Homo sapiens: one gene and its partners. The protein of the gene in region 2 purifies or fractionates together with the protein of the main gene of each other region. This does not show direct contact. Each region holds a gene or a part of one and is shown on either strand. Other genes may lie near its edges. The genes, in order: RPRD1A, BMAL1, VPS50, ZNF174, ZNF207 and ZNF44.

Evidence for each region.
Region 1: the proteins of BMAL1 (region 2) and RPRD1A purify together in Homo sapiens (affinity purification with mass spectrometry, with the first as the bait; one large-scale study listed by BioGRID). This does not show direct contact.
Region 3: the proteins of BMAL1 (region 2) and VPS50 purify together in Homo sapiens (affinity purification with mass spectrometry, with the first as the bait; one large-scale study listed by BioGRID). This does not show direct contact.
Region 4: the proteins of BMAL1 (region 2) and ZNF174 purify together in Homo sapiens (affinity purification with mass spectrometry, with the first as the bait; one large-scale study listed by BioGRID). This does not show direct contact.
Region 5: the proteins of BMAL1 (region 2) and ZNF207 purify together in Homo sapiens (affinity purification with mass spectrometry, with the first as the bait; one large-scale study listed by BioGRID). This does not show direct contact.
Region 6: the proteins of BMAL1 (region 2) and ZNF44 purify together in Homo sapiens (affinity purification with mass spectrometry, with the first as the bait; one large-scale study listed by BioGRID). This does not show direct contact.

Annotation. Positions count from the first base shown.
Region 1 is NC_000018.10:36,025,412-36,030,410, forward strand, and holds part of RPRD1A (regulation of nuclear pre-mRNA domain-containing protein 1A), read right to left. Parts: intron 1,900-4,999; coding exon 1,773-1,899; intron 1,665-1,772; coding exon 1,489-1,664; intron 268-1,488; coding exon of another isoform or gene 187-267; exon of another isoform or gene 1-186. UniProt on the Homo sapiens protein: Interacts with phosphorylated C-terminal heptapeptide repeat domain (CTD) of the largest RNA polymerase II subunit POLR2A, and participates in dephosphorylation of the CTD by RPAP2.
Region 2 is NC_000011.10:13,381,495-13,386,493, reverse strand, and holds part of BMAL1 (basic helix-loop-helix ARNT-like protein 1), read right to left. Parts: intron 2,015-4,999; exon of another isoform or gene 1,770-2,014; intron 806-1,769; coding exon 703-805; intron 1-702. UniProt on the Homo sapiens protein: Transcriptional activator which forms a core component of the circadian clock.
Region 3 is NC_000007.14:93,294,325-93,299,323, reverse strand, and holds part of VPS50 (syndetin), read right to left. Parts: intron 4,780-4,999; coding exon 4,688-4,779; intron 2,583-4,687; coding exon 2,488-2,582; intron 2,180-2,487; coding exon 2,081-2,179; intron 1-2,080.
Region 4 is NC_000016.10:3,406,158-3,410,481, reverse strand, and holds the end of ZNF174 (zinc finger protein 174), read right to left. Parts: intron 2,162-4,324; coding exon 1,563-2,161; 3' UTR 1,118-1,562; downstream 1-1,117. UniProt on the Homo sapiens protein: Transcriptional repressor.
Region 5 is NC_000017.11:32,359,751-32,364,749, reverse strand, and holds part of ZNF207 (BUB3-interacting and GLEBS motif-containing protein ZNF207), read right to left. Parts: intron 4,153-4,999; coding exon 3,985-4,152; intron 3,859-3,984; coding exon 3,783-3,858; intron 3,283-3,782; coding exon 3,235-3,282; intron 1,837-3,234; coding exon 1,766-1,836; intron 1-1,765. UniProt on the Homo sapiens protein: Kinetochore- and microtubule-binding protein that plays a key role in spindle assembly. ZNF207/BuGZ is mainly composed of disordered low-complexity regions and undergoes phase transition or coacervation to form temperature-dependent liquid droplets.
Region 6 is NC_000019.10:12,291,136-12,296,784, forward strand, and holds the start of ZNF44 (zinc finger protein 44), read right to left. Parts: upstream 3,749-5,649; 5' UTR 3,560-3,748; coding exon 3,557-3,559; intron 3,478-3,556; exon of another isoform or gene 3,161-3,477; intron 2,241-3,160; coding exon of another isoform or gene 2,097-2,240; intron 116-2,096; exon of another isoform or gene 85-115; intron 1-84. UniProt on the Homo sapiens protein: May be involved in transcriptional regulation.

The DNA of each region.
Region 1 (4,999 bases), on a different chromosome or scaffold from region 2:
AAGGCACTGGGGGAAAAGGGGGTTGTGGGGAGTGGCATCTGATCTATTTTCTACAGTTACACTTCAAATATAAATTCTGTTTTTGTAAACAGTGACAAATGACCATCATCATAAGTGAGAAAGTATAAAGCAGAATAAAGTTACAGTCTTCTCTTCAATTTTCAAAAACATGAGACAATACAGGCTTCAGGGTTTGATATTTATTTTTAGCAGGAAGAATATACTAATGGTGACGACATCGTTAGAAGATACGCCCATGTCCAATATCTGCAACAGAAGCTCAATAGAAGTTAAAGAAACCATACTAAAAGACTAAAGACAAAAATTGTATGACATTACTTACCCTTAATTCTGTGGACAATAAAACAATTAACACTATGTTTAAAATTGAGGTTTCATCACAAGGTGAAATAGTGGCAAGTTAATTATCAAATTCATCTTTTAAAAAAAAAAACCATCTTTTCCTTTCCATGTAGAAGTGGGCAACCTCTTCAAAGGTATAGTGGCCACCAACTATCATCATCTGAGGGTATTTATACGAGCAGAGAAGGAGTAAATTGCAAAGGAGTAGTGCTAACTTGAGAGCTGGGAATTTGAGGTGGGAATAATTAAGTAGCAGCTCCCATGGGTAGCAATGGCAATCTAATCTAAGCACCATTTTTGGCACAATTAGAGACTGCTGAATCAATAACTAAACACTAATAAAAATAACTTAATGGGGTAGTACCATGACATTCCTACAAATTTACAGTGAGCTTTCTGTAAATAAAGGGATTCAAATTAGAAATTCTCCTACATATTATTACAATAAGAAATTGCCACAGCAATACAATTTAAACAAGAACTCATCAACTGAAAGATTTTTTTTACATAAAACCAAATCTGGCTCATGTATCCCTAACAATTGCTACTCTAATCAAAGGAAATACGAGCATTTTTTAAAATCACCTCCTGTACTCCCAGATTTCTCATTAGCGGTATTAATTATTACTTAATTTACAGGAGCAATGAATTTCTGCCTAAGAGTGTGAGCCGGGAGTGGGGCTGGAACATGTAAGCATTAGAATTGGCGGGTGGAATTAAGGGAGTAATTTAAAGACTTAATGGTATACCTAAAAGACTACATCTTCTCAAAACAGAAACTAAATAAATCCTACTACAAGTGACTGCCACCTGCTATTTTCCTATTATTTCTGTGATACATTAGGGTTAAACTGGTAAGATAAATTATAGTTGCATGGAATTTCACAAGAATAATTTTTAAATGCAATCAATTTTGCTAATTCCAAATTTCTAAGTTTACTTGCAAGATTAATTTGGTTCAAGTAGAAGAAAAACCATTAATACAAGGAGAAGCTTACCTGGGCTACTGCTTAAAAAGGTCTATGTTAAAAAATGCAAAATGTGCACATAGATTAAAATATTTTAAAATTCCTAACAAAAAGAGAATTAAATAAATAAGCACTAAAGAAGAAAAAGGTTACGCACTTCCAATTTATGCTCTTTCTCTGCAAGGGCTTCCTTTTGACAACGAAGAAAATCTGCTAACATTCGAGTGAGTTGCTTTCTATCATCTATTTCTGCCGCCAATCTGCCATTGTAATCTGCCAGCAACATACACGCATCCTCTACCATTTTGGAAAGCCTTTCTCCAGATTCTTTATCTAAGAAAAGCACGGGATAATAAAATATTATACAACAAAAACAATGACATATGCTGTTCTCTCATCCCAACTCCCAAAAAAGTTCTGGATCACATTTTCTTTTCTTACCTGTTATTTTATCTAATAGAGATACTTCTTGGACTTCAACAGGTAAAGAAGCTATCCTCTGATGAACTGCTGCATCACCTGAGGCTGCATTTTCCAGATCTTGTAATGCTCTAACGAGATCTAGAGTCTAAAAAGTACACAACTTCAGAACCAAAATAAATTGAGCTTAAACAAGTGCAAAAGACTTTAATTTCATATTCTTTCATCCCTATGGGCTATTTACTAGTACAAAGCTCCTAATATAAACTGCTTTTGAAGACAATCAATTTCTTTCATATGTTAAGAAAAAAGGAGGCTATACTATGTTAGGTGTTGAAAATATAAACAGGACAAGGCCCTAGACCTTGAAGAGAGCTTACTCCAGTGGTGGAGACAGAGTAATAATAATTATTTGAGTACTAAAATGAGGTAATGAGGATTTATATGGCAAATACATCAGTGGTGAAAGAGAAGGTAGGCTATAACATCAACCTAGAGAATACAAGTTTTATGTATGATATATTCATTACATTATCATTGTACACTAGAAGTTTTTTTAGTATTAAATTGGATATTATGGAAAGAGGGTTACAAATCATCTACTACAACACAGAAGAGTCTCCCAGATTTCATTTCTAAATGCTGTAATTAAAGCCCAAGAGAAATGTAGTTCTAGAATATGTTCAAATATGATATCTTCAAGTATCCTATGGCTTGTTAATAAGATTAAAATATTTCAAAATTCCATAATCTGATGACTAATATATATTGCTTAACCAGTACTGAAATTATTTTATCATTAAAATATTTTACTTCCACTGTTTTCATACAAGCTATAATTAGGAGGGAAGCGCAACTCTTTGCTGGTGATTTCACAACTCATAATGTCTATAAAGTTATTCCAAAGAAAAACAATTAAATTTTATTTTTACTAGTTTCCATTCTCCAGCCCATCTTTTTCATCTTTCTTTCTTAATTTCTAATACTAGATTCAGAAACACTAGGAAATTACACATATGCTTTAAAAAATATAGGATATTAGTAATTCTGTGTATATATTAAGATTTTTAAACTATTCCCTTGAAAAAAAGGGTAGCACATGACAAATGATCAAATGTGGTAGGAATGAATGAAACTAATAAGAAATATACTATCCTACGTGTGCTCACTCATTAGAAGTGTTTAAAATTTCAGTATTTTAAAAAATAATTTTGTTGTAAGATATATCCCCTCTACAATTAAGGTGTGCTTAAGAGTAACAACAATTACCAGAAAGCTTGTTTCTCATCTTGCCACAACTAATATATTATTTTTAAAATCATTCTTAGAAAATTCTAATTGTCTGGAGTTCTAAGAAGAAATCTGGCTTTATTGTCTTGGCAATGCATTGATGCTTTAATTACAACCTGATCTCATCACACCTTCACAGTCCTACATGAGTACATTCTAAGTTCCCAATGCCTGATCAAGCATCAGATAAGAAAGCAAAGTTGTCTGAAACAATACTAAGCCTACTACTTCCTACCAGAGGAGAATGAAATGAGTTTAACGGGAACCTACAAAGAGATTTTAGCCATTCTTATAAAGAATAACACACACACAAAAATGAAGACCACAAAGCTGAACCATTGATAATTAAGCAGCACAACTAATCTAAAAAACGATCATTATAAAACAAAGAGCAACAGCATTTTACACAAGTACTAGAGGAGAGGCAGATGATTACTTAAAAATACTCCTAAGATATGCAACTGTGGTTACCCTTTCATCAGGGAGAGCGGAAGGAGACCAGATCCTTTATCTAGAACTTAGGTAAAACACTGTTCATAGAATCATGAGGCTCTTAGCCAAAAATGATTTTCTGTCATGAGTTATTACCAAATAGGAAGAGACATAAATCTTAGTGTTTGGTTGTTCCAAATGTAACATTCTTATCACTTTTCTATTCAAGCTCTTGTCCATAGTGGCCAATGGGCTTCAGCATTCCTATCACTGAACAAACAGGTAGGCTGACTCAGGTCGTGGCCTTGGTCTGATTCCTTCTGCTTCTCCAGTACTGAGACTAATATAAATCCACAGTTACAGGTAGTAATTGATTGTATTTTTCTTTCACCTTCATGGGGGAAAGAGCTCCTCCCAGCCTCTGATTTTATTCAGTGAATTTGGAACCAGTCCTCTAACTCCCACGGAGCACTGTGAGTTCCTGTTGCCCTTGTGAGTTCCTGTGACCTTAAAGGATACTAATTTCTGGCAACCCCATGTCTGCTTCGGGACCAGGGCTCAGCAGGAGCCAGGTTTTGTCTCACCTATGAAGTTAGGTGTACAATTTCTAACCCATGAAAATACATTCGCCTTGTTTTAAGAGTATGGTTATGTCTTCATTTTCTCATTTTACACTTTATCTGTCCCGCCTACATGTTTGAAACATAGAAGGAGGAAGCTTAAAGACTCAATGCCCACTTAAAAAAAAAAAAAAAAAAAAGTCTTTCTGGAATTAATCTGATGGTTAAGGAATACCATACCATACCAACATGTAGGAGGACACAGAGTGTTAAGATAATAATTCTAACTTATTTTTCCACAGAATTACATAGTTCTATATAGTTACAAAGAAATGTATGAACACATATATATCACTCTAACACTACTTTTTTTTTTTTTGAGACGGAGTCTCGCTCTGTCACCCAGGATGGAGTGCAGTGGTGCTATCTCGGTTCACTGCAAGCTCCGCCTCCCAGGTTCACGCCATTCTCCTGCCTCAGCCTCCCGAGTAGCTGGGACTACAGGCGCCCGCCACCACGCCCAGCTAATTTTTTGTATTTTTTAGTAGAGACGGGGTTTCACCATATTAGCCAGGATGGTCTCGATCTCCTGACCTCATGATCCGACCACCTTGGCCTCCCAAAGTGCTGGGATTACAGGCGTGAGCCACTGCGCCCGGCCACTCTAACACTACTTTTTACATTTAAAAACAAAAATACTTAAAGGGGCAGTGATTATGTCCAAGAATGAAAATTTTAGTGTATTTAAATCATACATGAGCCGGGCACAGTGGCTCATGCCTATAATCCCAGCACTTTGGGAGGCCAAGGTGGGAGGATCACTTGAGGCCAGGAGTTCAAGACCAGCCTGGCCAACATGGTGAAACCCCATCTCTATTAAACACAAAAATTAGCTGGGCTTGGTGGCCCGTGCCTGTAGTCTCAGCTATTTGGAAGGCTAAGGCAGGAGAATCGCTTGAACCCAGG
Region 2 (4,999 bases):
ATGGTAGGGTGAGATGCTGCTTTTTGGGCTGCATGGCTATCTTTTTTTATATCGCTGTTTTTTAGAGGAAAGAACCAATTTTTTAAAAATACGTAAGAAATAAGTGGGGTTACGTTGTGAAGAGACAGCTCTAAGGAATCAAATGATCATTTTAGAAATAAGTACAAAGCGCTTAAAATTTAGTAAATGTTAAAAATATTTGAGTCAAGCTTATTTTAATAATCTGATGTAACCAGTTAAGAGGAGTTACAAAAAGAAAGGCAAATAGGAAGGGAGAGTTTAGGAAAAAAACAGATCTAGAAAGCCCAGGGGAGAAAAAGATGGATGTGATGGGAAAAGCAAACTCTTTTCACTTAATGACTTTTAATACCTTCTGATATGCTTACTAATCACCCTTCTAGGCATTATCTCTGAACCTTCATTAGCCTTCTCTCTCTGAAGAGATTATGCCCCACATGGGAGAAAGCCTATGTCTAGGTAGCTGTAGCCTCCTCTTGAGTTCCAGGCACAAACTTGGACCTCCACCAAAACTCAAATACTGGTCAACTTTTTAGAGATTTAAACAAATTTTAAACTTTTATTCTGTTCCTATCAAATTTATCTAGGATTAGCTTGTTTCACACAGTTCAGTTCTTAAAATTGACTTTATGTAAGATGTTTTGCAAGCTCATTGCAATGGAAACGAATAATGATGCCACTTACCAAGAATAGAAGAACTATCAGAATATGGATAACCTGGGTTCTCCTGAGCCTGGCCTGATAGTAGGCCACTGGAAGGAATGTCTGGAGTCCCTCCATTTAAAATCTACAAACAAAAGGAGGGAAGTGTGAAGTTTGAATCAGTATTATGAGCAATGCCAAAAGGAAAATGAAGCATGGGGTGGGGTGGGGAGAAGCTTCAAATGGCTTCAGTTTTCTATTGGATGATTTCAAACAAGGAACTGTTAGACAGACATGGTCAGAGTAAGAAAAAACCTCTCCCCCGAACTATTCTTTTCTCTCCATTTTAGTGAGCCCACAGAGGCAACTTAAAGGCTGAATAAAATCCCAAGAGCATTCAACTGCCTGGAATCATGATGCCCACATATTTCTTTAGGACCAATGCCTAAACTTCAATGAGCCCAGCTAGACGTTTCCCCTATAAGGGAATAAAACATCTTATAGTGACAGATATTTCTGAAGAAGAAAAAGTGGAGTTAACAAGCTGTGAAGAGACACAGCTCAAGGAGTCAAATGAAGAAAACAGAAGTAAATCTCTTATACTACAGGTGCCAACTTCAGTAACCTGTGGTTTAAGTTAAGACAGGCTACTGGGGAGGATTATTACTACTACTCAGTAAGAGAACTCTGTCTCAAAATCTCCCCCACTCACCCCAGCTGCCTTCCCCTGGCTGAGTCTCAAAGAAGAGCATTCTTTGAGACCTATCTGGATATACGTGAGGAAACAGTTTGGTAGCTGCTGCTTTCAGGAGCAGCAATGATTTCAGGCTTTGCCAGCAGGTGGCATTATAACTTACTTTATTTCCACAGCAACGTTTTGGTCTAGGGACCCTTTTACACTCTTAAAAAAATCATTGAGGACTCCAAAGAACTTTTGCTTATGTAGGCTGTATTTATCAATATTTACTGTATTTGAAATTAAAACTAATAGATTTCTTAAATGTAATAAACCCGCTACATGTTAACATAAATAATGAATAGTATTTTAATGAAAAATAACTATTTTCTAAAACAGTAACAAAAAATTACCAGGCAGAGTATTATCTTACATTTTTGCAAATCTAATGTCTGGCTTAATAATTTTCAACTGGATTCTCATATATGTTTTTCCATTCAGTCTATTTAGATACGTCTTGTGATTCAAGTATATGAAGGAAATCCAACCTCCCACAGATAAGTAGTTGGAAAAGGGAGGCATATTTTAATAGACTTTTCAAATAATTGTATTCTTTTTTGATACCACTTCAAAACTTGACACGTAGAAGTTTCTTAAAGGTGAGTTGCAATGTGGAATCTGAAACCATATCAATGAATGTTTTGTACTCTTTATATCTTGGCACTTAGGATGGATCTTTTACCCTTACATGATTTTGAAATACCTTGCATTGTTTAGTTACAAAATATTGGTTCACTGAGTTATGCAGATCTTCTATATATTGACACATTTCATTATAGAGCATCAAAATATCACTATTATTAATACTCCCTATCTCATCAACAACATTTTTTAAGTTTTAGGAAGATCTCAAGGTCAAAGTAGCAGAGACAAGTTTTCTAAAAATTCCAATTTTTGCTTGAAAGCTCAGATTTTATCATTGGCAACAAATGTCAGTCATTTTCCTTAAAGTGACAGGTTCACTTCATTCATTTCCAAAAAAAAAGTATTCTAAATACCCAAAACCGAATGACCATATACAATAAAAATGGTGTCCAATGAAAATAGTAGCTAGTTCAACTCACAACTTAATCACACAAGTAGTTTTTGAGACAAACATCATACTTTGGTATGCAGCACAAGTTCTGTGTACTTCTCATTTTGTCACAGAGCATTAAAAAGATGTGTGCTTGAGAATTTTATAAAAGTAATGATGGACATTTTCCCTCCCTCCCTCACTCCCTTCCTTCCTTTCCTCCTTCCCTCCTTGATAGGGTCTCACTCTGGTTGCCCAGGCTGGAGTACAGTGGCACAATCTCAGCTCACTGCAGCCTCAACCTCCTGGGCTCAGGTGATTCTCCCACCTCAGTCCCCGGAGTAGCTGGGATTACAGGTACACCACCACACCTGGATAATTTTTTTTGTATTTTTTAGTAGAGATGGGATTTCTCTATGTTGCCCAGACTTGCCTGGAACTGCTGGACTCAAGCAGTTTGCCTGCCTCAGCTTCCCAGAGTGCTGAGATTACAGGGGTGAGCCACTGCACCTAGCCATGATGGACAATCTTAAATGAAACTGGCTTTAAACTATTTTTTTACTGTGAGTGTGTGGTGGTGAAGAATACAATGACTACTAGTATAGTTTGGTGCCACTTGTCTGATTTTTGTAAAATGCCAGCAATTTTACCCAACCGTGCTTTTAGTATGAATAGTGCACATTATCAATACAGGGAAAAAATTAACGTTTTAATGTTATTAAGAAAATAGCTTTAACCTTGCAGACCCTTAAAAGGATCTTGTGCCCCCTCTCTTTCTGGAAAAAGACTGCAGATGACATTTGTAGAACTGCTGCTTTATCTGAATTTTCCTTAGTGCTTCTGGATGTCTGTACTCTCTTGCGACCTATGGAGGCTCACTTAGGCTTCCTTTTTAGCTTGATCCTGACAAACAACTGCAGGCTAAATGGTTCATTTTTGGACCTTCCAAATTTGAAAGTGACTGGAAAGGGCTGGGTATGGTGCACCATTTAATACTGCTGTCAGTTTTAACTGTCTTGTTTAAGCTGCTTTTCTTATAAGTCCTGCTGCCCAGGACTCATCTCGTGAGAACACATCCAAATTTCTTCTCACAGATCCATTTTATAATCCATTCTTCTCAAAGAAAAGGGAGAATTTTCATAAGTGCCTCAAAAATAGCTGGGGCTTTATGATGCAGAGCACAGCTTTTGATTTCTGGTAGTTGTTGATGTGAAAAGAATTGGAAGCCATGAGCCCAGGATTGTAGCCTGGGGGCCATACTTATAAAACGAACGCTGAGGAGCCTGGATCTTGTCACTATAATGTTGTGAAGGTGAGATGAGACAATGTATATGAAAGTTCTTTGAGTAATATTTAAGCCTATACTGGACTGATAACCTTTCAAAACCAAGAAGTAGAATCCTTGGTAATACCAGGAGTCAAGTCAAGTGCCTAAAAGTTAACTTAAGAAGCAGAGACTGGAAGACCACCCTAAGAAGATGGTGGATCCAATATGCAGGAAGGACCTGGAGGTATAACAGAAGAACAGCTAAGAAGACAGCTGGCAAGCAGTGTGTGTGTTGTGGGCAGGGGGGCGGGGGTCACGGGACACCAAGCTCAGACTTCATCTGTCAGTGGTATTTTGGGCCAAGCACTTTCACATATATTATCTCACAGTAGGACCTCGTGCAAAGATGCTGGCTACCCTAACCATTATTAGCTCCATTATAAAGAAAACTAGGGCTTGAAAGTTGTACAAGTTCACATAACTAGCACATGGCAAGGCCAAGCTTCGAACCCAGGTCTTACTTTGTAGTCTTACCCATTAATTTGTTAACTTTCAACCTTTTTTGGGGGGAGCAAAACGCTTTTTCAAATAGAAATGTTTGCAGAAGATTCCTGTATAAAAAAGAAGTATTGCTGCCCTTGTAGAAGCAGGATTTCTACTCTTACCCTCTCTCCTTAGCAACTATCCCCACGCCCATCCCACCTGGTAACACCACAGCTCTTGGTAACCTGAACAAACCTCCGAGGAGCTCAGTTTTGAAAATCCTTGCCCTGCTTTTGATGGTTTGTGCCCTAGGAGTCCTGCCTATGGAAATTCCTGATATTCTCTCTCTCTGTTTTAGGAGATGGGGAAAGGAAGCCATTGTGTCCAAAATGATGGCCTTTAAACTGTCCTAAGCTCTACTGGCATCAGGCAATATAAACAGATTTATAATTTACGATTAAGATGGGCCTAGGCTTATAAGTTCTCCAGCAAAGATGAAAACAAATGACTGGTTCCTAAACCTATTTATAGTGTAGTCTTATAGCAAGCTCTTCATGAGGGCTGGTGATTGATCCACTGCTTGGATCCAATGCTGTCACACCAATGGAACCCCCAGGCAGCAGATCCCCAAGTATTCTGCAGCTATAAAGCATGGCTTGATTTCCAAAGCACTGCTGGTGGCATTGCTGTTTCCATTGCCTGCCCTAGACACTAATATTTTCTCCCTTGAAAATTCCTGGCAGAAAATGAGAAACTTTTCTATGTGAGGTACTCAATAATCTTTCCCTCATGGGAACTCTTGAATTGCTCCCTCAATTAAATGAACTGACAGTTCCCC
Region 3 (4,999 bases), on a different chromosome or scaffold from region 2:
ACTTTAGTCAATTCAATGTATGGACACTAGTATCATTTCTAAAGTTTCTGTTCAAGTTTATCTTGTTTTGTAAAGAAACAAATATACCTTAGAACACATTGATGGTTTGCACCAACTTTACCAAATGACTTCCACTATAATTTTCCTGATGGCAACTGTCAGAGCGAAAATGACTACAGACAGGATAGAAACTAGACTACCTTAAACTTTTGTTTAAATACTAGGGAAAAAGAAGAATACTAAGTAATAATTAAATTTTTGCTGTTTAACCTGCCCCAATTTTTACAATATACAATACTGCAAAAAAACGGGTCAAGATGTCTAGGCAACACTTATGGAGACCTTTTAATCTGGCCACTTCATTTTACAATGCATAAAATCACAGGCCAGAGAGGTTAAAGGATTTGCCAATACCAGACAGTTGGTAAGCAGCAAAAAATGCGACAAGAACCCAAGTCTACTATTACTCAACCCAGCTTTCCTTCTAATAATATAGCACAGCCACATCAATGAGAAATAAGTTTCACAAATGTTTCTAAGAGAAGTTATTTAAAATGTTGAGTGTTTGAGGAAGATTTAAGTCATTCATTTCTGTATTTTCTAATTTTATTAATGTGAACTCTGTGAGGAATTTCCATCATGGTCAAAATGCCCCTAGCTAGTTGCTACAGATGACAGACACCTTTTGACAATAAGTAAAACAGAATGCAGAATGGAAGCTACTAAATAAATCAGTGTCTCTATATTGTACACACATCCTAGACACCAGGAACACCAAAAGTTCTCCCAGTTGTCATGTTGGATACAAAGCAATCTCTGGGAAGAGAGACATTTGGCATGCCTTCATACTGCAGGGAAAGTGAGGCTTCCGGCTCCTTTGTGCTTCCATTTTATTTCCCCATCCATGATTAACAGGCCCCTCCCACTTCTATACAGGAATGTTTATAGGGCCAGCCTTTTGTTTTAGTCAGGGCTTAAGTTTTAGCAGACAAGGAACTTATAAATAAAGGCAGTGTTAGGGCTTCCTGTTGGTCCCTTCCCACTGTTTCCCTGAGGTTTAGTCAATTAAATTTTTAAAAAATTTTTAAACATTCTCAGTCATGAAACTCAAAGGCTCTGCTTTAGTATAGTTCAATTTAAATCTTTTTCAAACAATTTACTTCATTGTTTACAATTAACAGAGATAACTTGTATTCAAATATATATAATAATTAATTAATCAATGGTTTGGTGTTCAGTCATCTCTCTTTTGACATGGCATATATCACTGTGAGCAGGTGTTGACTATGAACAAGGAGAAAAAGCAGAATTTCAAATCATGACTCTCTCTGGGACCAAATAACAAGGAAATCAAAACTTAAATTCAATTGTAAAAAGTAAAAGTTCAGAATAAAAAGTAAGATGAAACTCAACTCAAAGGACAAAAGGGATACAACTTGGGGTCTAGCTTATATCAAGAGAAATCTCATGTTAGCTCTCCCTTCCCTCAATTTATTGCTGCTGTAAGGATATAATCACACTGCTATTATAAACATTCTTTCCCACCTTCCTCCACTACCCAAACCATTCCTAGTCACTCTTTTAAATATTAGCAGTGATTGTTTTGCAAAGCAATGCAGTATACAAATTTGGATTTATAGGGGAATTCTGAATATCACATCCTCTCCTCTAGAATCCTTCTTACATTTAAAAGATAGATACTCTCAAGCACCCCCTCACTGAGCACTGCCTCTACTGATTTAACTTCCTTATAAGCACACCCATATGTATGCAGGTATGGAACAGTGGCCAAATTCTTTCTGTGAACCTTGATATAATAATCATGTTTTACTCATTAAAAAATCAGTTCAATATTTTAAGCCCCTCAAGACAAAAATATATTAAAATGTACAATGAATATGTAATGAGAACATTTCATCATATTTTGGTTAAAAAAATCCTTAACCATCTTAAAAAAGCTACAACACATTCAAATTCAAAAGTAATTGTTTAAAATCAATTAATGCTATAAGATTAAGTATTAGACAAAAGTATTCTCATTACCTAAATAAGTCGATTCATATCTTATTAGAGTTCTTACCTATGGTAATTCTTGAAATAATTGACACTTTGTTTTCTAATAGATTCCTGTAAAACTTCAGACTTGCTACCACAAAATTCTTCTCCAACTTGCATCAACCTAGTTGGATAAAAAGGTTTCAGTAAATTTCAGCAGCAGCCTTATAGAGAAAAAGAAGTGTGGTTTCTCTTTCTTCAAAGATAAAAAAAATCACTAAAATTTGGACATGTGAAAAAATTCTAAAGATCACAAATCCATAAAGGTTTACAAACACCCAAAGGGCAGAAATATTTAAATACACTCACAAACTTAGCAGCAAAAATTATCTTCATTTCCATAAAGAAGTTATAGATGATAACTCACTAGCTCATGATTTATCATGGTTGAATGACTCAAACTAAAGAATAAGACAAGATCTTAAATACTACCTGCTGATTATATCCAAAACAAAGATGAAATCATCATATTTGAATATAGACAAATCAGTTCCAAGCAAGTAGGTTTTTACTTTTAGCTGAACATCCTGTAAGGCAAAGAAAAAGAAAATCAAGCAAACCCAAAATATAGAAAATAAGTTATCAGAAGCATTTACTCTATAGTTCCAGATTAAAATGAGACAGGAATATATTCCTAATTTGTTAACGAATATCTATTTAGGCCAATAGCCAACATCCTTAAGGGATGTAATAGAGACAATCCCATTTCCTATACCAGGAATGCCATCAGGTTGCCAAACTGAATGGAAAGTAGCTACATAAAGTGCTAAGTCAGTATTTCAAAGTACACTGAATTACCAGAAATTCTATCATAGATTGTAAAATTTTACCAAAGTACACTTAAGGCCTATTGGGAGACTAAGTCAGAAACAAATCATATCTGATCCTGGGTGTATATTCAATAACTATAAGATTTTCCTTTCTTTTTATGCATAATACTCAGAAAACAGTCAGCCTAAATCCACAATTAATGATAAATTAAATATTTAATTTTAATAAATGTTTAATATGGTTATGAGTTTAATATAGACAAATGAGAAAATATATGTCAAACCTCTTACAACCACAAAAATAAATTTTAAATACTAAAGCATAAAATCAAATAGCATATCGAATACAAAATTATCAAAAATTAGAAGAGCACTAAATTATAAATATTAACTGATTCATGAAGAAATTTATGTTTTCAAAATATATTTTCCTAAACAATTTTTTTCAAAACATATCCTATAAAAGATGGTCAAGCTGGGCATGGTGGCTGATGCCTGTAATCCCAGCACTTTGGGAGGCCAAGGCAGGAATATCACTTGGGCCCAGGAGTTCAAGACCAGTCTGGGCAACATAGCAAGACCCCATATCCACCAATAATAATTTAAGAAAATTAGGCATGGTGGTGCACATCTGTGGTCCCAGCTACTCAGGAGGCTGAGGCAGAAGGATCACCTGAGCCCAAGAGGTCGAGGCTGCACTGGGCCATGACTCTGCCACCACACTCCAGCCTGGGTGACAGAGTGAGACCCTGTCTCAATCAATCAATCAATCAATCAAAAGAAAGAAAGAAAAAAAAAGATGGTCAAAATAAAGATCAGCCTCATTAGAAAAATCAAAAATACATTTTAAAAGACCATAACATGGCCAAAGGGTCTATAGTCTTCCAAGGTTCAAAGAAGTCCAAAAAGAGTAAGTTATCTTCAAAGAAATTACACTGTGATCTAAGAAGTAACAAATTATCTGATTACAACAACTGAGTTACTAAATTGTAAAGAAAAACTTAATAAGATACTGCTATGGTCTGAATGTTCATGTCTACCCAAAATTCCGAAGCTGAAATTCTAACCTCCAAGGTGATAATATATTAGAAGGTGGGGCCTTTGTGAGATGATTAAATCGTGAAGGTAGAGCCCTCATTAATTAGATTAGTTCCCCTATAGAAGGGACCCCAGAGAGCTCCTTCATCCCTTCCACTATTTGAGGATACAGCAAGACAATGTCTATGAACCAGGAAGCAGGCCCTCCCTCCCAACAATGCTGGCACCCTGATCTCTGACTTCCAGCCTTTAGAATTCTAAGAAATAAACTTCTCTGTTTATAAACTATGCAGTCTAGAATATTTTGTTATAGGAGCCCAAATGGACTAAAACCAGATATATTCAGCCAATAAGCATGTAAGATTCCCTCAAGGTACAAAGATCATTGACTGAGAAAAAAAGAATTATTCATTCTAAACTATAATCTGACCTAAGTATGCTATCTACTTAGTTACTCCTTTTCTAAAATTAACAGAAAAAAAAATTAAGAAAACACAGATAAATGAAATAATAAACAGAACATCTCACTGAGAAAGCATACATTTCTCTATGATAGTGGAAATTTGCTAGGCCTCTAAAACAAAAGATGTACTCAAGACATGTATGAATATTTCCAGTGGAGATTTTCAAATTAAAAAACTTTTTTCCTGCCACTTATAGTCCAAATACATTACAGAAATTAAATGATAGCCTAATTCCAAACAGAAACATATGATTAAATCTGCAAAGAATACATATATAGAAAACTTAAAACTGAATTTCTAAAACTATGACATGACATTTCTATTGCTTCTGTGAAAAAAATAATTTTAAAAAAACCAAACCTGCCATATTCGTGTAAGTCCATGTTCTAATTTCTTTTTTATGTAGCCACGATCAAAATTAGTTTCTTCAGTACCTATCATATTACTCCCTTCTGAAAATAAAAGACAATATATATTTTTAGATTTAATCCAATTTGTGTTTGTTTTCCAAATAATTTCTATTTGGCCTCTCACACATTGTAAGTCTATGTAAGATACAGTAAATATGTTTGATATTTATACAATCAAAACAATATCAAACAATAGGTATTAGACTTAAACCCATTTGGTGAGACAAATAAACGTAGACTATGAAATGCTAAATATACCTAA
Region 4 (4,324 bases), on a different chromosome or scaffold from region 2:
TCAGGAATGCACTAATCTGCCAAAAGTTTTCTCTAAACTGAGCAATGAGCTAGGAATTGTATACTGATTTGCATTTTAATTTCCGCTTTGAGAAAACGAGGAGGTGGCATTAGATGATCGCTCAGGCTTATTTCCAGGGCTCATTTTATATAAATATATTTTGTCACTTAAAAATACGCTGTTGAGGTACAATTTACATATCATAAAATTAGCCCATTTCAATTATTTTTAGTAAATTTACTGAGTTGTGCAACCATCACTGTAATCCAGTCTTAGAATATTTTCATTACCCCAATCCTTTTGCTATTTTTTTTTTTTCCTGAGACAGAGTCTCACTCTGTCATCCAGGCTAGAGTGGAGTGGTGCAATCATAGCTCACTGCAGCCTCTAACTCCTGGGCTCAAACAATACTTTTGCCTCAGCCTCCAAGAGTAGCTAGCTGGGATTATAGGCATGCACCATCATGCCTGGCTAATTTTTGTATTTTTTGTAGAGACAGGATTTAGCTACATTGCCCAGGCTGGTCTCAAACTCCTGGGCTCGATCACCCTGCCTCAGCCTCTCAAAGTGCTAGGATTACATGTGTGAGCCACTGTACCCCCATTGCATTTTGTTATTCTTAAAGCTAATGGGCTAAGTGAGAAAGGAGAGTGGGAAGAATTCCCTTTTATATCTCCTTAGTACTCTTTGTCCACTACTTGCTTCTCACTGTAGCTTTTCCTTATGTGTTAGGCTGGGGTTGCAGCAACTGTGTAGATTTTTTTTTTCTCAATCAAAGGTGCTTTGAGAACAGGCACGGTGGTTCACACTTGCAATCCCAGCACTTTGGGATGCCAAGGCAGGAGCATTGCTTGAGCCCAGGAGTTCGAGACCAGCCTGGGCAACATAGCGAGACCCTGTCTCAAAAAATAAAAAGGAAAAAAAAAAGGTGCTTTGATACAAAAAAGATCCCTCAAATGTAATTTTCTTTTCTTTTTGTAAAAGCACCATCTAACTACTTGGAAACTCTTCTCGCACAAACGTGCATATTCTCATTTAATTCATCCTTTGCTATAAACAGCTAGTAATTACAGAAAGAATATGAGGGATCTATTTTCCAATTAACTTTGCCTTGAAATTCTGGTAGATCACTCATCTTTATTAAAGAAGTGTGCTCATGATAAAAAATTGTCTGGTATGACAGCAAATGCATAACTATATATATAGAATTTATCCCTTAACATATTTTAGAGGATAAAGCAACAGAGGGACGATTTAACAGTAAGCGGGCCACCTGCAGGATTGTCCTGATTCTCTCTCAGTAGTTACTCCTTGCTCTCTGCAGAGACTTAAGTTCTCTTTGCCCCAGTGCCCAGACCTGCCTTCTCTTCACCCTGTCATCATGCACGGTTGGGCCCTGGTTGGCCTTTTCTGGGCCTCCTCACAGCAGAATGTGCATCATCATTCCTCAAGGGCCTCGTGCTTTCCTTGTAAGTCACACAGTTTTTGTGATTTACATGCAAGTAAGGGGGAGGAGAAACACAAACACCTTCCGTGTGAATCTAAAGCATGGAGTGCTCCTTTTAGTCCCCATGGTGAAGTCGGTGATGCTGGTGAAGGTTTGAGCTCTGGCGAAAGCTTTTCCCACACTGGCCACACTGGTATGGCTTCTCTCCAGTGTGGATCCTCTGGTGCAGCTTCAGGGTTGACTGCCGCCCAAAGCAGTTTCCACACTCTCCGCACGTGTAGGGTCTCTCTCCTGTGTGGACTCTCTTGTGTCTCTTCAGCTCTGAATTCCACGTGAAGCTTTTCCCACAGTCATCACATTTGTAGGGTTTCTTTGCTGAGCGGGTGGGCTGGTGACCAAGATGTTGCAAACGGTTGCTCAGACTCCGTTTACCTCCTTTGCTTTTCTTTAGCTCTCTCAGTGGGTGGCTTTTTAGGGGGCTGCTGATGTATTCCACCCTGCAATGTCTCTGGTAGTGAGCAAATGGCTTTTGAGCATTTGGGGAGCTGACCTGCCTCCGTGACAACCGAGGTTCACTCATATTTGCCCCTCTTGGTTCAGGATTCTGCAGACCATTCCCTTTGGATCTGCCAGCTGACACTGCACATGGCTTTGCTCCTTTAGCCCCTTCCTGTTGTGGATTTTCCTTGTTGTCACTTCTCATTCTGGGGGCCTCTATAATTAGAAAGAAAATGCTTCATTTTCTGCACTTGGAAGAAATAACTTCAGCAAGAGTTATGAAATACTCTGAGAGGTTTCTCAAAGGGTGGCCCTCCGCTGGCAACTTGCATTAGACTCATCTGGAGCACTTGTTAAACAAGCAGGCTCTTCACCCTTCCCCCAGAGCTGCTGGGTCAGAATCTCGGGGGGTTGGGCCTGATAATCTGCACAGTTAGCAGGCTCCTGGGGTGACTGTGATTTATATTAAATTTAGGAACCAAGTTCTCCATCCTCCTTCTTCCTTTCTCCCTTTAGGGAAAGGTTTAGGAAATGAAGAACAGGGAAAAGCAAACCCATCAGAATTGGGTATCTAATGAAGAAGGAAGAGAGGTGAAATCTCAACATTGCAAATTTTACTGCTGTAGTCCAATGCCTGAGCTATTTCAACAAATACCCCTCACTTAGTAAACACTAATTGACAACCACCTTCTCTTCAAAAGATGGTAAGTTCAGAGACTGTGATGTTTTCTTTCATTACAAATTTGACAGTATATGAGTTCAGAAACTGGAATCAGGGCTTAGCCATGTATCCTAATTACAGAAGGATTGACAGTCTGGATGGAGATGAGCTGGAACGGCCTATGGGAAATCACAGGATCTGGAGAAGGATCCCTTGTGATGTGGAAAATGTGTGTGTGCACACGTGCATGCACAGGCACATGCACGTTGTTCAATATGGCAGCCACTAGCCACATGTGACTATGTGGCTACTGGGTACTTGAAATGTGACTACTGTGACTAAGGAACTTAATTTTAAATTTTTTTTTAATTTTAATTCATTTAAATTCAAATGTAAATAATCAGCCTATACAATCAGGGTCAATTGCTTTTTGACAAGACAATTCAATGGGAAAAGAATAGTCTTTTTCATAAAGGATTCTAGGACTACTGGATTTCCACATACAAGAGAATGAAGTTGGACCCTGCTATGGTCTGAATGTTTATCCCCCCTGTCCCCTGACACACATATATTGACAGTCCCCAGTGCAGTGGTCTTGGGAGGTGGGGCATCTGGGAGGTGATTAGGTTATGAGGGTGGGGTCCTCATAAATGGGATTAGTGTCCTTATAAAAGAAACCCAAGAGACTACCATGTGGGGACTCATAGCAGGCACCATTTATGAGGAATGGGCCCTCGCCAGACACCAAATCTGCTGGCACCTTGATCTTGAACTTCCCAGTATCCAGGAACTATGAGCAACAAATTTCTGTTGTTTATAAATTACCTAGTCTAAGGCAATTTGTTGTAAGAGCCTGATCAGATTAAGACAGACCCCTGATCAGATTGACAGACCCCTACCTCAAAACCTATATAAAAATTGACTTGTTTATGTATGGGGAAAAAATAAACTTAAAATGGACCAAATAGCTGAAAGTAAGAGCTAAATCTATGTCTCCTTGAAGAAACCATAGCTGTACATATTTGTGCCCTTGGATTAGGCAGTGCTATTTTACATATGACACCAAAGCATAAAGAAAGAAAAAAATAGATAAATTAGACTGCAGCAAAATGAAAAACGTGTGCGTCAAAGGACACTGTCAAGAAAGTGAGACAACCCACAAAATGAGAGAAAAGATTTGCAAATTACACATAAGGGTCTAGTATCTAGAATACATAAAGGACTCTTATAAAAAATAAAGACAAATAACCTAATTTAAAAATGACCAAAGGATCTGAACAGATATTTTTCCACACAAGATATGTAACTGGATAATAAGCACATGAAAAGATGTTCAACACCATTAGTCACTAGGGAAATGTAAATCAAAACCTCAAATCAAAATTTCTCACCGAATAGGATGGGTATAAGACAATAACAAGTGCTAGCAAGAATGTGGAGAAATCGGAATCCTCACACAGTATTGGTGGGGATGTAAAATGGTGTAGCTGCTTTGGAAAACAGTCTGGTAGTTCCTCATAAGTTAAACATGGAATTACCACATGACCTAGCATATGGTAATTCCACTCCTAGGTATATACTCAAGAGAAATGAAAACATGTCTACACAAAAACACACATTTATAGCAGCATTCTTCATAATAACCAAAAAGTAGAAACAACCCAAAAATCTATGAACAGATGAACCAACATGAACAGAAAACCAACATGTAATATATC
Region 5 (4,999 bases), on a different chromosome or scaffold from region 2:
TTATTTTTCCTGTGTCCATTTACATCAACTATCATTTCAGTACTCTAAATATGCTATGGATTGCAAACACACCAACATAAAACGCAGGCTAGGGCCGGGCACAGTGGCTCACGACTATAATCCCAGCACTTTGGGAGGCCGAGGCAGATGGATCACGAGATCAGGAGTTCGAGACCAGCCTGACCAACATGGTGAAACCCCATCTCTATTAAAAATACAACAATTTGTCGGGTGGGGTGGCACACTCCTGTAATCCCAGCTACTCAGGAGGCTGAGGCAGGAGAAAATCGCTTGAACCCAGGAGGCGGATGTTGTGGTGAGCTGAAATCACACCACTGCTCTCCAGCCTGGGCAACAGAGCAAAACTCCATCTCAAAAAAAAAAAAAAGAAAAAAAAACAACTAATAGCCTCGTGTGGCACATCTTGCTGGCCAACCAAATCCCTTTCCTTGTGCTGTATTTCCTGCTTTATAGGCCAAATTCTATATACTTAATTTCCCAGGTTCCCTCACAGCATAATACGTAAGGAGCTAAAGAGCTTCTGGGAAAGTTATTTTGGTTCCAAATAGAAGAAAAAGGAGGCCAGGTGCTGAGGCTCACTCACACCTGTAATCCCAGCACTTTGGGAGGCTGCGGCTGCAGTGAGCTATGATCGTGCCACGGCACATCAGCACGAGTATCAGACCAACACCCTGTCTCAAAAAAAAAAAAGAAGAAAAGAAAATGGAGAGTGCACTACAACCGACACCCCTTCTTGTCTGAGCTGTCTTATAACCAAATGACATTTCTGAGGAAAAAAAGCTAAGGTGAGCAAAGTCAAAAAAAGCATGGGTTAATAAATATCATTGAGCCACTGAATCTACCACTTTTTTGTTGACTGAGACAATGAATGCCTACACCGTTTAATACAGTTTGTTGGGGCTGGGCACAGTGGCTCACGCCTGTAATCCCAGCACTTCGGGAGGCCAAGGCAGGCGGATAACCTGAGGTCAGGAGTTTGAGACCAGCTGGCCGACATGGCGAAACCCCATCTCTACTAAAAATACAAAAATGAGCCAGGCGTGGTAGTGGGCGCCTGTACTCCCAGCTACTCGGGAGGCTGAGGCAGGAGAATCACTTGAACCCCGGAAGCAGAGGTTGCAGTGAGCCGAGATCATGCTCCAGCCTGGGTGACAGAGCGAGATTCCATCTCAAAAAAAAAAAAAAAAAAAAAAAAAAAAGTTTGTTGGATTTCTCTATTACTTGTCTAAAACATTCCTAACAAATACAAGCGCTCTAAGTATGTGAGATTCAGCACATAGGCCGTGACTCACTTTGGCTGCTTTGAAACCTATCATCTATTTCAAACTTCAAGAAAGGGCCAGCCAGGCGTGGTGGCTCACACCTGTAATCCCAGCACTTTGGGAGGCCAAGGTGGGTGGATCACCTGAGGTCAGAAGTTCAAGACCAACCTGGTCAACATGGTAAAACCCCGTCTCTACTAAATACACAAAAATTAGCCAGGTGTGGTAGCAGGCGCCTGTAATCCCAGCTACTCAGGAGGCTGAGGCAGAAGAATCGCCTGAACCTGTGAGGCAGAGGTTGCAGTGAGCCGAGATATCTACCAAAATACATTTTTTAAAAAAGGGTCCATATAACACTTCTCACAGGAACTTGCAACTTTCAAAAATTTTTAAATTTCATTATACTAATGCCCACAGACGTCTAAAAAAACTTAGAAATAAAGCCTGTACATCATATTAAAATGAAATTATCTAACATATACCTGGTGGCATTCCAGGCATCAGAGGTGGTATTCCTGGTCCAGGTGGCATCATTCCACCCATTGGCATCATTCTATTAGAAAGCAAATTTCAAGAAACAGTAAGTTAATGAACAGCATAAACCATTAAAAAATATTCTGGCTAAAGCCTGAAACAACACTAGATAGAAGACTTGAATCTGACCTCTAATACTGAAATGAATCAAAGCTGAAAGAACACACAACACACTGTAACAATCCTATCAAAATAAATTGTCTAAAACCCAGCAAACTCTTTGGTTTACCAATAAAAAAAAAATGTTGACAAAACATTTAAAGTCATTTGAGAACAAATATACTCTCAATATGTACAAGAGGCCTCATCTAAAATATGTGTAATGGGAAAGCAAATTCACCACTTTTTCCACTTGGAAAATATCCACAGAGTATTAAAGAAAAAGAAGAAATCTCTATTTCAGAGTTGTGTTGGATTTTGAAAAGAAAAAGATTGAATGAATGTACCCTGTGAAATGAGATTTTTTATTTGGCTAGGTGCAGCAGCTCATGCCTATAATCCCAGAAGTTTTGAGAGGCCAAGGCTCAAGGACTGCTTGAACTCAGGAGTTCAAACCAGGCTGGGCAAAAAGTGAGACCATAACTTTTTAAAAAAGCAAAAATTTTAAACATTAGCTGGGTGCAGTAGTGTGCGCCTGTAGTCCCAGATACTCAGAGGGCTGAGGTGGGAGGATCACTTGAGCCCAGGAGGTCAAGGCTGCAGTAAGCTGTGACTGCGCCACTGCACTGTAGTCTGGGCGACAGAGTAAGAGACCCTGTGTCAAATACATACATATACACACACACACACACACACACACACTTTTTTTTTTTAGAGAAAGGAAATACTACCACCAAAATTAAAGACACTCAAAAGTAAAACCAGATGGCCTATTTACAATAACTACCTACCACTAAACCATGACTTAAAAACACAACCCACTTATTTTTTCCCCTAAAAGAGCTCACCTTCAAATATCAGTGTCCAATTCACTTAAAAAATGATAAATTGGTCAATTTTCTTTCAAATTTTTTAAATTTTTGTGGGTAAATTCAGTTCTTGATTTAAAATTTTTATCAGAAGATTAACTTCTATTAATAGATTAGAAAATTCCATTACATCCTATAATAATAAAGCATGTAATTTCATAGAATATAGTCTTTCTTAAATACTAACCCTTATTAACAGGTCCCATTACTTTCAATAGTTTGGAGAAAATCACTGCACATTTGAAGTATGTTTATATGGGTCTATTACCGTTTCCTAAAAGATGTTTTATTTTCCTTCTTTAAGAGACCTGTGTTAATTAGCTTGCAAGTTTTAGTGAGGAAGGTTAGAAAATTTCTGAAGTCAACTGAATAGATACCATTAAACACACACATAAAAAAATGACAGTATGATTATACCTCCTGAATTACATTATGAATGAGATGCTTACATGTTTTCACCGCAAAATGACTGGGTGTATTTTCTCTGATGATGCAATCTGTGAAAATGTATGACAAAATCAAAATCTAACTGTGATTTTCAAAATACAGTGGGAAAGTGTATTGTATACCTCTCACATCCAACAATATTTAAGTAAAAGTGATGGGCACAAGCACCTCATATTCATTTTAGTTTTGATGCTTTGACAAATAAATCATTTACAGAGTTTCTCTGCTTCTTGTCACAACTACAAAGTGTCACAGATAATTCTGAATCTCAGAAACGCAAATCTATAAATAACCAACTACTTTAATCACAGTAAATGCAATTGAAGTAGATGGTTGCTTACATATACCCTAAAACCCAAAAATCTATTACTCAGAGGCAAATTTATATTCCTTAAATTTACTGGTTGATCCCTTTATTAGACAAGATATATAGAGCCCATACCTTCTAGAAGCAAAAAATGGAAAGTAACATTTCATTCATATAACATCCAAATTGAAAAAGATCATTACTAGGCACAAGCCTACAGGGCAATTAAAAGAATTTTCTTACCCAGGTGGCATGCCTGGCATAACTGGTGGCATTCCTGGCATCAGAGGAGGAACACCTGGCATTAATGGAGGTATGCCTACAAGCAAGAATTTCAATCAAAATAATAACAAATATTAAAGAGTTAGAGGGAAGAAAGTAATACTTCGATACAATATCAATAATGTCCTAAAAATGTTAGATTTTAAGCAATCCTATGTGCTACCTGGAGGCATTCCTGGTGCTCCTGGTACTGGTGGCAGTCCTGGCTGTGCCATTGGAGGAATATAACCTTGCTGAGGTTGAACAGGCTGTGGCTGAAATGAAGTTGAGGCTGCAGAGTCGTCATCATCATATTCATCAGAATCATCTTGTTGCTTCTTTTTTTGACTTTCTGTTAAAAAAAAAAAATTATTTCCATAGAGTAAAAACTAAGAAAGTTTATTTACAACATTCAATATTTAAAAATACATATATGGGTAAAATTACTTCATGAGATTTTTCTTCCCCAAAAATTCAATTAATACTGCTCTATGTTCTTCAAATGTGTTTTCGCCCTATATTAAACAAGATTAACGTTCTTTCCCTGTCCTATGAAAGGTAAAATGATTATCCTAAATCAGTATTTTTTCTTTTAAATTTTTAGTAAAGTCTTGCTCTGCGATGCAGGCTGTACAGCAGTGGCACGACTGCAGCTCACTGCACTCTCAAACTCCTGGGCTGAAGCGATCCTCCCGCCACAGTCTCCCAAGTAGCTGGGACTGCAGACACATGCCACCACACTGGGCTTTTTTTTTTTTTTTTTGGGGGGGGGGTAAAGGTGAGGTCTTGAACTTTTGGCCTCAAGTGATCCTACGGCCTCAGCTACCTAAAGCACTGAAATTATAGGAGTCCTTCATTTTCATATGCCTTAACACTTGCTAATTCTATTTGGAATTCAATTATGAATAATAATATAAGAAAATGGAATGATCCAAATGGTACTGCATATATACAAATCAAGTATGTCTTCAAAAACAGAGCTCAAATTTTAAATTCCAAATAAATCTATCATCTACCATTCAATTTTATCTATCTATCAAGTGATCAATCAATCGATTTATCTAAATAGGATCTCACTCTGTTGCCCAGACTGGAGAATTCACAGCTCACTGAAGCCTCAACCCCTTGGGCTCAAGAGATCCTCCCACCTCAGCTTAGACTATAGGCATGTGCCACCACACCCGGCTAATTTTTGTATT
Region 6 (5,649 bases), on a different chromosome or scaffold from region 2:
CAAAGGATATTTAAGTTCTTTAGCTATTGCAAAGTCCCACAGAATGTTGCATTAATCTGCCAAGTCCAGATAACAGGAACAGACCAGACTTATCCACTGTCCCAAGTTCTCCAGCCTAAAAAGAAGAGAAACTAAAGTTTTGATAAAGCTTTATAATTCAACCAAATACCTACCACACATTCTTGTGAAAATATATTCATTTTTCTGCAGCCAAAATGGAAGAGTTTTCCCAAATTTTTCCCTTGGTAGTATTTACACTGCTAAGCCCTGAAATTCCATTTGAAATCATCCAATAAAAGACCTGAGAAACCTATTACATGGTCTCTGGGGTAATAAAAGTAAATAAAAGTTTTTTAAAAATGCTCCAGCCTGGGCGACACGGTGAAACCCCATCTCTACCAAAAATACAAAAATTAGCCAGGTGTGGTGGCGCACGCCTGTAGTCGCAGCTACTTGGGATGCTGAGGTGGAAGGATCTCTTGAGCCCTGGAGGCAGAGGTTGCAGTAAGCTGAGATCGTACCACAGCACTCCTGGGTGATAGAGGGAGACCATGTCTCAAAAAAAAAAGAAAAAGGCTGCGTGCAGTGGCTCACACCTGTAATCCCAGAACTTTCATTGGCCGAGGCGGGAGGATCACCTGAGGTCAGGAGTTCAAGACCAGCCTGGCCAGCAAGGTGAAACCCTGTCTCTACTTAAAAATACAAAATTAGCCAGGCATGGTGGCATGTTCCTGTAATCCCAGCTATTCGGGAGGCTGAGGAAGGAGAATTGCTTGAACCTGGGAGGCAGAGGTTGCAGTGAACCAAGATAGTACCATTGCACTCCAGCCTGGGCAATATAGTGAAACTCCATCTCAGAAAAAAAAAAAAAAGAAAAGAAAAGAAAAAAAGTTTTTAAAAAATGGAATAGGGCCTGGGTCCAGTGGCTCATGCCTGTAATCCCAGCACTTTGGGAGGCCAAGGCAGGAGGATCACTTGAGCCCGGGACTTCAAGACCAGCCTGGCAACATGAGGAAACCCCATCACTACAAAATACTCAAAAATTAGTAGGGCATGGTGGGCATTCCCAGCTACTCCGGAGGCTGAGCCCAGGCAGTCTAGGCTGCCTAAGCTGCAGTGAGCCATGATGGTGCCACTACACTCCAGCCTGGGCAACAGAGGGAGACCCTGTCTTATAAAAAATAAAAATAATAAAAAAAAGGAATAGAAAACTACATATATATAATTTGTTTTCTGAATTCCAACTCTTTCTGGCCTCTTTAGAAACACTTTATCTTCTCTATAATCTCTAATGATAGGATGCCCTTTACAGTTAATAAAAAATTAAATTGGAAATAACTGAACAAATCTTTTCAGGGTAACTAACCCAGGGTGGGGCAGAACTGACTGGAACACAGACAAGTCTCACTCAACCGTCAGGTCAGGTCGTTCTATCACCTGGCACATCCGCCAGCCCCACGGTGCTCATTGAAGTGCTCAGCAACCACATTCCTAGGAGACACTGCCTTATGTCTTTTTCAGGCTCATGCAAAACCTCATTGGGTGGGTTTTTCAGTTTTTAGAAACAGTTTTCTAGCTTCACAGTCGGAGAGAGTCCAGAAGGCAGAAATCATTTGTCTTGTCCCCTGAATAACACCATCCAATTTTCTGATAAGCCATGCGTCACCAAGGAATGGAAACTAGGCTTGGGGAAAAAAATGTCAATGTCCCAGAGGTTAGGTTTTTTTTTTTTTTTTTTTTTTTTTGAGACAGAGTTTCCCTCTTGTCGCCCAGGCTGGAGTGCAATGGCATGATTGTGATTTCGGCTCACTGCAACCTCCACCTCCCAGGTTCAAGTGATTCTCCTGCCTCAGCCTCCCATGTAGCTGGGATTACAGGCACCTGCCACCATGCCCGGCTAATTTTTGTATTTTCAGTAGAGATGGGGTTTCACCATGTTGGCCAGGGTGGTCTTGAACCCCTGACCTCAGGTGATCCGCCCGCCTCGGCTTCCCAAAGTGCTGGGATTACAGGCGTGAGCCACCGCGCCCAGCCCAGGGGTTAGCTTTTTACAGGAATGATATACCAGAAGATTCCTCCCACCCCAGTGCATCCACCTGATCCTTTGGGAGGCCCCACTCCAACACCTCAGGCTGTCCTCTGGGAAGAGTGACCCAAGGGCCGATATCCACTAGGCCCTCCATGAGATTGGCAGCTTCCAGCATCTTAGGGTAGCCCCAGAAAGTTCCATAACACAGGGCCTGGAAAAGATACAGGGTGGGCTGAGGTCACATCACCCTGTAAAGGACATACTGAGAAGGCATCTGTGCCTAGGGGAGATAAAAGAGGCACAAAGGTTTGGTTTTTTTTACAGCAGTGTCAGGTGGTTATTCTCTTCTTCCTCACATGTGAAATGTTAAGGAAAACAAAATAAATCTGTTTAAAAAGAGCCATACATTGCTATCTGAAAACAAACGACAAAATTCTGTGTCTATTTGAAATATCGTCTTGCTGACAAAGGGTTCATAACGTTACTGGGAATTGAGGAGTGAAGTTAGCATATGGAAGGCTCTGGAAACCAAAAGATTTACTGTTAGCCCCAAGAGGAGTTAGGATGAAGGGACAGGTCTCAAAGACCCTGATGCCAATATCTTTGAAAGCCTCGGAGGAGAAATGGTCGCCCTTGGAAAGAAAGGACTGAAGAGCACAGAGACCACAGCTCCTCCCACACACAAACCCCACACACGAGTCTGGTTTGTGCCTAGTGACCCTCCCACCGTCACCGTGCAGCCTCCTCACCGGGCTCACAGGAACTGCGAGCCAGGCTGGAGGCGAGATTGCAGTTAGATATTAACCAGGTGCCCTCAGCCCCGCTGCTTCACAGGAAGCCGCCTCCCTGAGAGTCAGGTCACAGCAGACGCTGACCGCCGGCTTCCCCATTGGCCTGGGGATAAGATCTCTGAGAGTTGCTCAAGAGTCGTCTAAGTTCTTTCTCAGATCTTGAATTCCAGCGGAAAGGCTGGCGCCAAGCAGGCTGAAGACCCCACAAGGAAGCCCACTCAGCAGCAGAATGCGGTTTCTTCACCTCCAGTCCCAAGATTCACCCCTCACTTCTCCACCAACCAGCGACCCCACATCCCAACCACCCCCGTCCAGACCCCTAAACACCCCATCCTCAAACCTCTCACGGAGGCGGATCTAGGGTGTCCTCTCCTATTAAACCGTTTCTGCTGCAGCCCTCGGCGTCCGGGTGCAGTGACTTGGGCTGCGAACCTGTACTGGTTCCGCCGCACAATCTGGGGAGAAGCGGGGCTGAGGGCGCGGAGCTGCCCAGAGAGGGGCGCCGGGGCCGGGGCCGCAGTCGCAGCTCAGGGACGGGACAGGACGCCCGGGGTCCCGGCTGCCGGCCCAGCCCCACCCTGCGGCCAAACGGACCGAGGACCGAGGTGCGCAGGGGGCGCTCAGGTCCCAGACCCCAAAGACGCTGCGGCGAGGCCCGGGTCCCGCCACAGCCGGTTCCGACTGGTTCCGACCAGCCCTTCGCCCTGCCTCAGGACGCCGGGCCCCGCACACTCACCATTTCCCGGCTGTGCGGTGTCCCGGGTCCTCCCAACTCCCGTAGTCAGGGTAGGTCCCAGCGCGACAAAAGCCACCACAGATGTCCCAGGGCGTCTCTCAGTGACAGAATACGGAACAGAGGTCACCAGGGTGAAGAGGCCACTAGCTCCTGGAACGTCACACCCTCCTCTCTGCCTCGCGCCTGATTGACAATTCTCAGGAACCCGCCCACGACTTTGATTGGGTAGCCCTCCAGGTCCCGCCTCCTGGGCACTGAGTGACAGAAGAAGCGATCTCACAGTGCTGAGTGCAGCCGGATGAACAGGTTCCAGACCCGGCCCCTGGCAGGGCGGGCTTCCTCCCTGCGTTGTGACCCGACCCGTCCCGGGAAACGTTTGCCTTAAAGCGGAATTTCCTACCTGTACGCAGTGGGCCCTTTTTGCTTCTTCCTCCTGAACAATTGTGTGCAAGGAATCCCAGACTCACTGTCCAGTGGAGCCATCCCTTGGCCTCAGAGCAGGAGGGCAGCCGAGGCCACACAGGCCACACTGTAGCAGCGGGGGACAGGGGGTGGGTGGGTGGGGGGGTGGTGCTGATGTCCTCCAGGGACCAGGAATTTGGGATGAGGCTGTCGCCTGCAAGGTCAAGCCTTTCTTCCACTATAAGCGCTGGATGGGTTCTTTCTGCGCGCTACGCAAATAAAGACCACGGTATTGCAGTTAAAAAAAAAGTTTAATAAACACTAGGCCAGCTACGATACGTGAGAGACGGAGTTACTACTCAAATTATTCTCATCCAAGGTCCTCTGGTAGGGGTTTTTCAAGGGCAGTTTGGGAGAAAGGGTGGAGGTAGCTAGGCTTGCTACTGACTGGTTGGGGTGGGGATGAAATCACTGGGGATGGAATCTGTCCTCTTGGCAGTGCGTGGTGGCTCACCGCTGTAATCCCAATACTTTGGGAGGCCTAGGTGGGAGGATCGCTTGAGGCCAGTAGTTCAAGACCAGCCTGGACATAGAGTGAAACTCCGTCTCTATACTATAAGGGAGGAGACCACCCCTCATATTGTCTTATGCCCAATTTCTGCCTCCAAAGAAGAAGTAAAAACTAAAAGGCAGAAATGAAATCCACAGGCAGATAACCCGGCTTGTGCCCTGGGCTGGGTAGTTAAAAATCAACCTCTGACCTAACTGTGTTATCTATGATTCCAGACATTGTATGGAAAAGCACTGTGAAAATCCCTGTCCTGTTCTGTTCAGTTCTGGTTACCGGTGCATGCAGCCCCCAGTCACGTACCCACTGTTTGCTCCATCAATCACGACCCTCTCACGCGGACTCCTAGTTGTAAGCCCTTAAAAGGGACAAGAATTGCTCACTCGGGGAGCTCGGTTTTTGGAGACGTGAGTCCGCCGATGCTCCCAGCCCAGCTGAATAAAGCCCTTTCCTTCCACAACTCGGTGTCTGAGGGGTTCTTGTCTGCGGCTTGTACTGCTACATATTTAAAAAAGAAAAAAAGAGGCCGGGCCCGGTGGCTCACACCTGTAATCCCAGAACTTTGGGAGGCCCAGGCGGGCGGATCACCTGAGGTCGGGAGTTTGAGACCAGCCTGACCAACATGGAGAAAGCTCGTCTCTACTAAAAATACAAAATTAGCTGGGCGTGGTGGCACATGTCTGTAATCCCAGCTACCTGGGAGGCTAAGGCGGGAGAATCACTTGAACCCGGGAGGTGGAGGTTGCGGTGAGCTGAGATCGCGCCAAGCCGAGATCGTGCCTTTGCACTCCAGCCTGGGCAACAAGAGCGAAACTCCGTCTCAAAAAAAAACAAAAAAAAGACAAAAAAAAAAAAAACCTATCCTGTTATGCTGAATCACTTCTGGTTGGGGCCACAGGAGCAGAGTTGGCAGGTGCAGGTGGTGTCAGACATGCAAAAAAAAAACAAACAAACAAACAAAAACTGAAAATACGTCTACAAATGCTAATCTACAATAGTGGTGTTATCTGCAGAAATAGCTGGCAATCTATGTCTACACTTTAGCAGCATTCCGATTCCTTTCATCCCTCAGCCTGATGGCCATTCATTCGTTTTACAAAGGCAGTTGAGTTTTGGGGAAGGC